Linked DNA regions of Homo sapiens. The protein of the gene in region 1 purifies or fractionates together with the protein of each later gene. This does not show direct contact. Each region holds a gene or a part of one and is shown in the gene's direction. Other genes may lie near its edges.

Evidence for each region.
Region 2: the proteins of KIF26B (region 1) and ZC3H13 purify together in Homo sapiens (affinity purification with mass spectrometry; one large-scale study listed by BioGRID and IntAct). This does not show direct contact.
Region 3: the proteins of KIF26B (region 1) and ANKLE2 purify together in Homo sapiens (affinity purification with mass spectrometry; one large-scale study listed by BioGRID and IntAct). This does not show direct contact.

What each region holds. Positions count from the first base shown.
Region 1 is NC_000001.11:245,706,873-245,710,001, forward strand, and holds the end of KIF26B (kinesin-like protein KIF26B), read left to right. Parts: 3' UTR 1-2,560; downstream 2,561-3,129. UniProt on the Homo sapiens protein: Essential for embryonic kidney development. Plays an important role in the compact adhesion between mesenchymal cells adjacent to the ureteric buds, possibly by interacting with MYH10.
Region 2 is NC_000013.11:45,979,722-45,983,376, reverse strand, and holds part of ZC3H13 (zinc finger CCCH domain-containing protein 13), read left to right. Parts: intron 1-3,372; coding exon 3,373-3,564; intron 3,565-3,655. UniProt on the Homo sapiens protein: Associated component of the WMM complex, a complex that mediates N6-methyladenosine (m6A) methylation of RNAs, a modification that plays a role in the efficiency of mRNA splicing and RNA processing.
Region 3 is NC_000012.12:132,755,325-132,758,979, reverse strand, and holds part of ANKLE2 (ankyrin repeat and LEM domain-containing protein 2), read left to right. Parts: intron 1-3,655. UniProt on the Homo sapiens protein: Involved in mitotic nuclear envelope reassembly by promoting dephosphorylation of BAF/BANF1 during mitotic exit.

The sequences.
Region 1 (3,129 bases):
ATGCAAGTAAATGGGTCTCAAATTTTGGTGGGGGCAGTGTTTCTTTGGATTCTGATACCTCTTTTTCCACCTCCAGAAAGTATCTGTCAACATTGGTGGGTAACAGCTTATAAAGTGCATCACTTAGTAATCTTCCTGACAAAATGACACATTTTAAAATTACAACCTGTTCATTATTTCCATCATAATGCAAGCGTAATTCTAATCCGGGAGAAGATACTGTCATTTAAGCTCATCTTCTCAAAAAAATTTTTTCTGAAAATTCCTGGAAACTAATTTATCCCTCCCTAAACAAACACATTCTGCTTTTGGGTGGCCCTACCCAGAACCTGCAGCAATGTCATAACACTGGACACAGTGCGGCTTGGGGCAGTATCAAGCCTTCATTGCATACAAACCTTAATCTCTAAGCATAGTTGTTCCCAAGGTCCACACGTGTGGAGGCGAGTACTGAAATACCACACTCACACATCTATTCCATGCGTACCTAGAAATTACCTTCAACACTAAAAAAGGTTCCTTCTTTCATTCCCTATCCTGCTAACAGCCCACATTGTAATATTTGATTTATGAAGAAGTTCTAATTTATTTGTGAACTCAGGATGTTGCTTTACAGCATTGCTCGTGTTCTCTCATTTACTTATTATGCATCACGGTTGGAAATGCTATCCACGTGCCGTGCATCGAGGTGGAGATTTGCTGGATCTGTCTGTGGCTATTTTTTTCCATGTTTTTCTCACTCAAGCAAAGTCTGTTAGTGGAAACATGGGCTGGGGGATGGGGAGAGGACAGATAAAGCAAGAGAATAGGGATTAGGGTCCAATCCTCAATGCACAGGGCTTAGTTCAAAATCTAAGCTGTTTCTGTAGTAAGCAGCCAAATGGGAAAGATCCCTTCGTTTTGAATTTGATGAGAATGGGCTTGGAAATCCACGCCCACCGGCTTGCACGGAAGAGGACTCAGCCTCTTCCTAATGGTTCAACATTCAATTCCTGAGGAAAGTGCTGATAGTATTAGTTCCCTACATTTCCCTAAGACTCCCATCCAACCCCTAGTGCTACTGAAGAGGGTTTGGGAAAGCAATTGGAGTTCCTTAGCTTGGATATATATAGTACCTGTTTTTTTCCTCTGGAAAAACCAAAGTACTTTAGTGAGTCTTACAATCTTAAGGCATTTTGTCCCCTCACTGGGTCCCGAGAGGCAGGGAGGGGCTAGGCCTTGAGCTAGGAGCAAGGACATGGGCCGCCAGGCCTGGTTGTTACTAGCTGTGCAACCTTGGGCGAGCCTCTTCGCTTTGCTGGGCCTCAGGTTCCCGAGTGGAAGACTGGGGGTCAGAACAGCTGCCCTTCTGGGAGAGCATCAAGAGAAAGTGGTATAAGTGATGGGAAGTGCTTTGAAGAAATTAAAGGTCTGTCTAGGAGCTGGGGGTAATCATTTACAGATGAAGAAACTGAAGTCTAGTCATTGACTGGCCCGAGTTCACAGAGTGGTTTTATAGCAAAACAGGGACTTGAGTCCAGCTTATTGGATTCTTCCCATCAGATCATATTGCACCAGGTATGTGTAGACATGAACACATACCATTCCTCTAAGGTGTGTGTACATACACGGATGTGTGTGTACAGGAGGTACCTGACATGGTGAAAGGCCATAGGACAGAAAACCTGAGTTCTAATTCCAGCTTTGCCAGTCGTCCCGTCCGTGATATATTCCATAGGACAGAAAACCTGAGTTCTAATTCCAGCTTTGCCAGTCATCCTGTCCGTGATATATTCCATAGGACAGAAAACCTGAGTTCTAATTCCAGCTTTGCCAGTCGTCCCGTCCGTGATATATTACCTAACTCCTCCAGAACTCAGTTTTCTAACCTATAAAATGAAGACATTGTGCTAGATGATCTTTGTGGTTCCTTCAAGCTCTGGATCTCTAATTCCATGATTAGTAATGTATGTATGTGTATATAAATATGCTTATCTGTAGAAATGGGCCCATTTGAAAAGTGGAGACAAGGTCTGCCCAGGTGCATTTATTGTGCCAGAAACAGTGAATTCCTAAATAAGTTCATAAAATCTTGTTTTACAATTCAATGGTAGTGCTTAATGTTACTGTCTGAAATCCACTGTTTAACCAGATGGAAGACTGGGGCCATTCAAAACATTATTAGTTCACAAGTGTTTGCTGTTAAAATGCTTCAATAAAACTCATTTGTTAAAGTCAGAAATTCAACTCTTCTGTACTTGGGCAGGTCCCAGCAGCCCCTTGGCAGGCTAGTTTTGTGCATGGGCCTTTGCAAGCTATATAAACGTTAGGTGTTGGCTTGATTATGATAAATATGAGCAGGCTCCCTGGAGAACAGTCCAGAAAAAAAGAGTTATAGTTCTCACAAACTGGTGACATGAATCCATTAAGCTGTGTGGCATTTTCCAGTGTAAAGACATTGTTTGCTGGCTACGATCTCTGACTTTTTGTGGCATATGAGGTGTAAAATGTTGTCAAAAAAGAATCTGGTGTTTAAAAAAAAATCAAACTATGGTGGCATTAAATGTTCACTTTTATTCTACCCAGAGTTGTGAATTCCTCTATCCAGCTTCTCCTTCTGTACCTCGGGGGAAAGCAATTCAAGAGCTAGGGGTGGGTGCTTCTCACGGCAGCAACACCTTGGCCCAAGTCTAGCCCCCAGGCCTCTCAGGACCTCATGGGATGAGGCCTGTCTAGTCGCCCTGTGGAGCTGGCCCCCAACAAGTTCAGCAGCTCAGCCAGGAGTGAGTAGAGGTGTCAGCTAAGTCCCAGAGTCCCTGGACTTGTTCTGCACACCTGAGAGCCAGACGCTGGGGAAAGTGTGGAGAAGCTTGTGTTGATAATGGGATATTTTCTGTTGCCCTCCCTCAGTCCAGTGTTTCTGGGGCTTACACAAAATAAGGGAATTTGCAGTCACTGTAGATTGCTCGGGCCTGGATGCATGGGCCTCTGTTACACTGGTGCTTGGTCTCAGTTATAACTGGGCACATTCAGGCAAGAAGGCAAAAACAGATCAGAACTAGAAAAAGGTCTCTCAGGGTAGCCCCTTCCCTTGAGGACAGTCTCCCTCCACTGCAGACATTTCCCTCTGAACAGTAATGAGGGACTTTC
Region 2 (3,655 bases), on another chromosome or scaffold:
AGATTTTAAAGGATTGTTGCTGGCATTTTATTACTAAGTATGGTGTTTGTAGATTTTTTGCAGATACTTTTTATTGTGTTAAGGATTAAGTTCTCTCCCCCCATTTTAGTTGTCAGAAAATACTCTGTTGAAAGTCAGTTCTTTGGGATATGTATTTGTTAACTCTTATTTTGTGGCTCAGTGGTCTGTTTTTATAAGTGTTCTGCATATGCTTTCAAAGGAGTTGCATTTGTAATGGTTGAATGCAAAATGTTTCTCTAAGATAAAGTTTGTTTTAACTACACTTTCAAATCTACATGTAATTTTTCTTAGTCTGTTTGTTCTGTCATTACAGAGAGGTGAGTTCAGTCTTCCACTGTGATTGTGGAATTTGTAGATTTGTTGATTTCTACTTATAGTTTGATCATTTTTTTATTTGAATATTTGAAGCTTTGCTATTAGGTACACGTAAATTGAGTTATTTCTTTCTTTATTCATTATAGAATGACTGTTTATGCCAGGTTCAGGTTGAGCATCCCTAATCTGAAATGCTCCAAAATCTAAAACTTTTTAATGTAATTTTTTTTGTTTTTGTTTTTTGTTTTTTCTATAGCCACTAGCAACTGATAAAATCCAGACTTTTTGAGAGCTGACATAACATTCAGAGGAAATGCTTATTGGAGCATTTTGGATTTCCAATTTTTCAGATTAGGGATGCTGAACCAATATAATGCAAATATTCCAAAATCCAAAACACCTGTGGTCCCAAGCATTTCAGATAAAGGGCATTCAGCCTGTATTTTTCTTGAAGATTGTTTTGCTGGCAGCTGTCTTTTGGTTAGTATTTGTTTGATATATCTTTTTCCATCCTTTCAGGCTTAATTTTTTTTTAAATGTAACTCTAAACAACATATAGTTTTAGACAGATTAAATCTCCTCATTGTATCTTCTTTCATTCTTAACTTTCAAATTTTTCATCTCTTTATCTGTTTCGCCTCTAGGTCATATTCTCAGGCTTACCTTCTAGTTTACCAATTTTTTCTTAGCTGCATCTAATCTGATGGTTAATCCATTCTTTCCTAGATGTTATATGTAGCCTTTTTGTAGTCTGTAAAAATGTTTTAAATTTTTTCTTCCTGGTCTTTAATTATTAAAATATTTTTCACAGCTATTTTGATTATTAAAATACCCGTAGAATCATGCTGTAATTCTTTTAGGTCTCAAAAGCCTGTTACATTTGTATTCTTTGTGTTTTTGTTTGTTTTTTAAATCTTGGGGAAGTGCCTTTTGATTCTGTCTTTGGGTGGGTTAGTTTGTCATATGTTCTTTTTTTTCTTTTTTATTTATTTGTTTATTTATTTATTTATTATTTTATTATTATTATACTTTAAGTTTTAGGGTACATGTGCACAATGTGCAGGTTAGTTACATATGTATACATGTGTCATGCTGGTGTGCTGCACCCATTAACTCGTCATTTAGCATTAGGTATATCTCCTAATGCTATCCCTCCCCCCTCCCTCCACCCCACAACAGTCCCCAGAGTGTGATGTTCCCCTTCCTGTGTCCATGTGTTCTCATTGTTCAATTCCCACCTATGAGTGAGAATATGCAGTGTTTGATTTTTTGTTCTTGCGATAGTTTACTGAGAATGATGCATCACTGGCCATCAGAGAAATGCAAATCAAAACCACAATGAGATGCCATCTCACACCAGTCAGAATGGCAATCATTAAAAAGTCAGGAAACAACAGGTGCTGGAGAGGATGTGGAGAAATAGGAACACTTTTACACTGTTGGTGGGACTGTAAACTAGTTCAACCCTTGTGGAAGTCAGTGTGGCAATTCCTCAGGGATCTAGAACTAGAAATACCATTTGACCCAGCCATCCCATTACTGGGTATATACCCAAAGGACTATAAATCATGCTGCTATAAAGACACATGCACACGTATGTTTATTGCGGCACTATTCACAATAGCAAAGACTTGGAACCAACCCAAATGTCCAACAGTGATAGACTGGATTAAGAAAATGTGGTACATATACACCATGGAATACTATGCAGCCATAAAAAATGATGAGTTCATGTCCTTTGTAGGGACATGGATGAAATTGGAAATCATCATATGTTCTTTTAAGTTTGGAGTGAACTCATCTTTGTCAAAGATTTATCCATGGTAATTCTATGAGGTTGAGGGCAGGGCCCTCAGAGTTTCTGTCTTTGTTTTTGCCAGATATTCCTAAATTATCACAGCCCCAGTACTGTTTCTCTACTCCTAACCCTCACTGCTCAAAAAAAGCTTTTTTTTAAATTTCATTTTGTTTTGAAGTAATTAGGAATTCACAGGAGATTGCAAATAAATGTACAGGGAAACTTTGTTTATCCTTACCCCAACTTCTCCAGTGTTAACATCTAACATCTTATCTATAGCATAGTATCAAAACCAAACAATTGACATTGGTACAATCCATAGAGTTTATTCACATTTCACCAGTATACATGCACTTGGGTGTATGTCTGTATGTAGCTTTTTGTAGTTTTATCATATGTGTAGCCCATTTCCATAGTCAAGATACTCATCTATAACATCCTAAGATTCCTTTTTATTACCCCTTTATAGCCACAACCCTCCCCTGGCCCCTGGCCCCAACCCCTGGCAACCTCTTATGTGTCCCTTGTTTTGTAATTGTCTCGTAAATGGAATAATGCTATATGTATCCTGTTGAGATTGGCTTTTTCACTCAGCATAATTTTTTCTTGGGGTTCATCCAAGTTGTTGCATATATCGGTCATTCATTTTTATTGCCGAATAGTATTCCATGGCATGCATGTGCCACAGTTTGTTTAACTGTTCATCCATTGAAAGACATTAGTGTACTTTGCAGGTTTTGGCTGTTATCAACAAAGCCACTGTGAACATTTGTTTCCCACATCTGTTAATGAAAATTTTCACATACAGTTTAATGTTGTCATTAACCTTGGTGTTCTATGTTGGAATGTTTTCACTGTAAACTGTATTTAAGCAATAATACGTACCCATTTTTTTCTTTCATTATTTTTATATATCTGTGAATTAAATATGAAGAAATAGTTTTTATTTTTTGTTTTTTTTGGGGGGACAGGTTAATTTTAATGAATCTTATTATTTTATGATTTTATCATATGACTTTTATATAGGTAGGGAAAACTGGGACTTCGTCTACTCAGGTCAGTCATTGGACACCTTGGTTGTTCTGATTCATTGCTTGATACTCTTTTCAGGAGTGATTACCACACTTTGGAATATTAAATATATATATTAGTGATGTTTAGGAGGAAAGATTATGACTGATGAAATTTGTTGAATAAAGTGTATGTGGTAAACATTTGTGTGTCTATCCTTTGTTTAGGAAGTCGAGGCTCAAGAGGTTCTCAAATTGATAGTCACAGTAGTAATAGCAACTATCATGACAGCTGGGAAACTCGAAGTAGCTATCCTGAAAGAGATAGATATCCTGAAAGAGACAACAGAGATCAAGCAAGGGATTCTTCCTTTGAGAGAAGACATGGAGAGCGAGACCGTCGTGACAACAGAGAGAGAGGTTTGTCAAACAGAATTTTATTAAATAGTGAACAATATCAATTGGGCGAATTGTTTTTTCAAACAGTTACCAATTTACTTTTTAATATAAA
Region 3 (3,655 bases), on another chromosome or scaffold:
TCTCTGCCACGTGGGTGCCCCGGGGTGCCACACTGCGTGATCCACTCTGCCACGTGGGTGCCCCGGGGTGCCACTCCGCAGCGATCCACTCTGCCACGTGGGTGGATCTCAAGGGCATTATGCTGAATAGGAAAAGCCAGTCTCAAAAGTTGTGTACTTGGCCGGTTGCGGTGGCTCATGCCTGTAATCCCAGCACTTTGGGAGGCCGAGGCAGGTGGATCACAAGGTCAGGAGTTCAAGATCAGCCTGGCCAACATGGTGAGGCAGTCTCCACTAAAAATACAAAAAAATAGCGGGGCGTGGTGGCAGGTACCTGTAATCCCAGCTACTCGGGAGGCTGAGGCAGCAGAATTGCTTGAACCCAGGAGGTGGAGGTTGCGGTGAGCAGAGATCGTGCCACTGCACTCCAGCCTGGGCGACAGAGCAAGACTCCATCTCAAAAAAAAAAAAATTGTTAATGGAACATTATAACCCAGTGTTCAGACCTAGCTGTTTCTCACATCTTTACCCATCGATCTGTCAAAGACCTTGTGATCATACTGATACTTCCAATTTCAATGCGACGTCCGCGGGTTTATTCTTTTTTTTTTAGGTGGAGTCTCACTCTGTTGTCCAGGCTGGAGACTCACTGCAACCTCTGCCTGCCCAGTTCAAGCGATTCTCCCACCTAGCCTGCTGAGTAGCTGGGATGACAGGTGCATGCCACCATGCCTGGCTAATTTTTGTGTTTTTAGTAGACACCTGGTTTCATCATGTTGGCCAGGCTGGTCTCAAACACCTGACCTCAAATGATCCATGCACCTTGGCCTCCCAAAGTGCTGGGATTACCAGCATGAGCCACCGTGTCCGGCTCCCTGGCTTTATTCTAATGCAAGAGTCAGTAAACTGTGGTCCAAACTGGCCCCCACCTATTTTCCTTAGTAAAGTTTTATTGGAATACAACCATACCCTTTTGTTTATGTATATCTGTGGCTGTTCTTTTTTTTTTTTTTTTTGGAGACGGGGTCTTGCTCTGTTGCCCAGGTTGGAGTGCAGTGGCACAAACAGGGCTCACTGCATCCTCAAACTCTTAGGCTTAATTTATCCTCCTTCCTCAGCCCCCCAAGTAGTTGGAACCACAGGTGCACGTCACCACACTCAGCTAATTTTTTTTTTTTGAGACGGAGTCTCGCTCTGTCGCCCAGGCTGGAGTGCAGTGCCGCCATCTCTGCTCACTGCAAGTTCTGCCCCCTGGGTTCACACCATTCTCCTGCCTCAGCCTCCTGAGTAGCTGGGACTACAGGCGCCCGCCACCATGGCCGGCTAATTTTTTAGTATTTTTAGTAGAGACAGGGTTTCACCGTGTTTGCCAGGATAGTCTCAATCTCCTGACCTCATGATCCACCTGCCTCGGCCTCCCAAAGTGCTGGGATTACAGGCATGAGTCACCGCGCCCAGCCATCAGATAATTTTTAAAGTTTTTGTAGAAAGGGTGTCGCTGTGTTACCCAGGCTGGTCTTGAACTCCTGGGCTCAAGTGATCTTCCCGCCTCGGCCTCCCCAAGCGCTGGGGTGACAGGTGTGAGCCGCCACACGCGGCCTGTGGCTGTTCTGAGCACTCACGTGGCCTTTGGCTCATAGAGTCTGAGATGCTTACTCTCTCGCCCTTTACAGGAATCGTTTGCTGAAACCCTGTTCTCACTCCCACTTTCCTTTCTGTCATTGAGAGTCCTGGCTCTCATCAGCCACCGTGTATTCCAATTATTTGCTTTGCCCTAGAGTCCACAGAAAATAGCTTTAGGTGTGTTAACCTATACCATTGTGAAAACATCTACTGCCTAGAGCCTGTTCACACGGTAATGGTGCACAGTCCTTTTTGTCTTTCTCCTTAGAGCACCTAGTCACTCACTGTTTTCCAAAGTTACGTAGGTTAGCTTCCCCTGTGTTACTCACTTGTAATACAGTTAGGTGCATTTCTTCTGGCTAGTATTCCATGTGGGTGTCTCCCCCATCTTTTTGTTTATTTACTTATTTCTTTTTTTTTTGTTTTTTTTGTTGTTGTTGTTTTATTGAGGTGGAGTCTCGCTCTGTTGCCCAGGCTGGAGTGTAGTGGTGCGATCTCGGCTCACTGTGACCTCTGCCTCCTGGGTTCCAGCGAGTCTCCTGCCTCAGGTTCCCGAGTAGCTGGGATTACAGGTGCCCGCCACTGCGCCTGTCTAATTTTTGTATTTTTTTTTTAGTAGAGATGGGGTTTCACCATCTTGGCCAGGCTGGTCTCGAACTGCTGACCTCGTGATCCACCCACCTCGGTCTCCCAAAGTGCTGCGATTACAGGCGTGAGCCACCGCACCCGGCTTTACTTATTTGAGTATGTAAATCACGAACATGTTTTTAAAAGTCAGAACCCTGTAGAAACTTAAATTCAGATGTATTACTCCCCCCCGCCATCTTTTTTTTTGTTGTTGTTGTTGAGACAGGGTCTGATTCTGTCACCCAGGCTGGAGTGCAGGGTTGCCATCTCAGCTCGTGGTGGCATCCACCTCCCAGGCTCAAGTGATCCTCCTGCCTCAGCCCCCTGAGTAGCTGGGGCTGTAGGTGTGCACTACTATGCTCGGGTAATTTTTTTTTTTTGAAACAAGGTCTTGCTCTTGTCCCCTAGGCTGGAGTGCAGTGGCGTGATTTCGGCTCACTGCAACCTCCACCTACTGGGTTCAAGCAATTCTCTTGCCTCAGCCTCCCGAGTAGCTGGGGTTACAGGCATGTACCACCACGCCCGGCTAATTTTTGTATTTTTAGTAGAGACAGGGTTTCACCATGTTGGCCAGGCTGGTCTCGAACTCCCGACCTCAGGTGATCTGCCTGCCTCCCAAAGAATACAACGGGCTGGGCATGGTGGCTTATGCCTGTAATCCCAGCACTTTGGGAGGTTGGGAGTTCAAGACCAGCCTGACCAACATGGAGAAACCCCGTCTCTACTAAAAGTACAAAATTAGCTGGGCGTGGTGGTGCACGCCTGTAATCCCAGCTACTCGGGAGGCTTGAGGCAGGAGAACCGCTTGAACCCAGGAGGCAGAGGTTGCAGTGAGCTGAGATCGCACCACTGCACTCCAGCCTGCCTGGTGACAGAGCGAGACTCCGTCTCAAAAAGAAAAAAGGCTCACGCCTGTAATCCAAACACTTTGGGAGGCCAAGGCAGGTGGATCACCTGAGGTCGGGAGTGCAAGACCAACCTGGCCAACATGGTGAAACCCCGTCTCTCCTAAAAATACAAAAATTAGCTAGGTGTGATTCCAGGCGCCTGTAGTCCCAGCTACTTGGGAGGCTGAGGCTGGAGAATCACTTGAACTCAGGAGGTAGAGGTTGCAGTGAGCTGCGATAGCACCACTGCACTCCAGCCTGTGCGACAGAGGGAGACACCATCTCGAAAAAAAAAAGAAAAATTCTTTTTTTTTTTTTGAGCTGGAGTTTCGCTCTTGTTGTCTAAGCTGGAGTGCAGGGGTGTGATCTCGGCTAATTGCAGCCTCCGCCTCCTGGGTTCAAGCGATTCTCCAGCCTCAGCCTCCCAAGTAGCTGGGATTACAGGCATCCGCCACCACACCCGGCTAATTTTTTGTATTTTCAGTAGAGACGTGGTTTCACCATGTTGGCCGGGCTGGTCTCGAACTCCTGACCTCAGA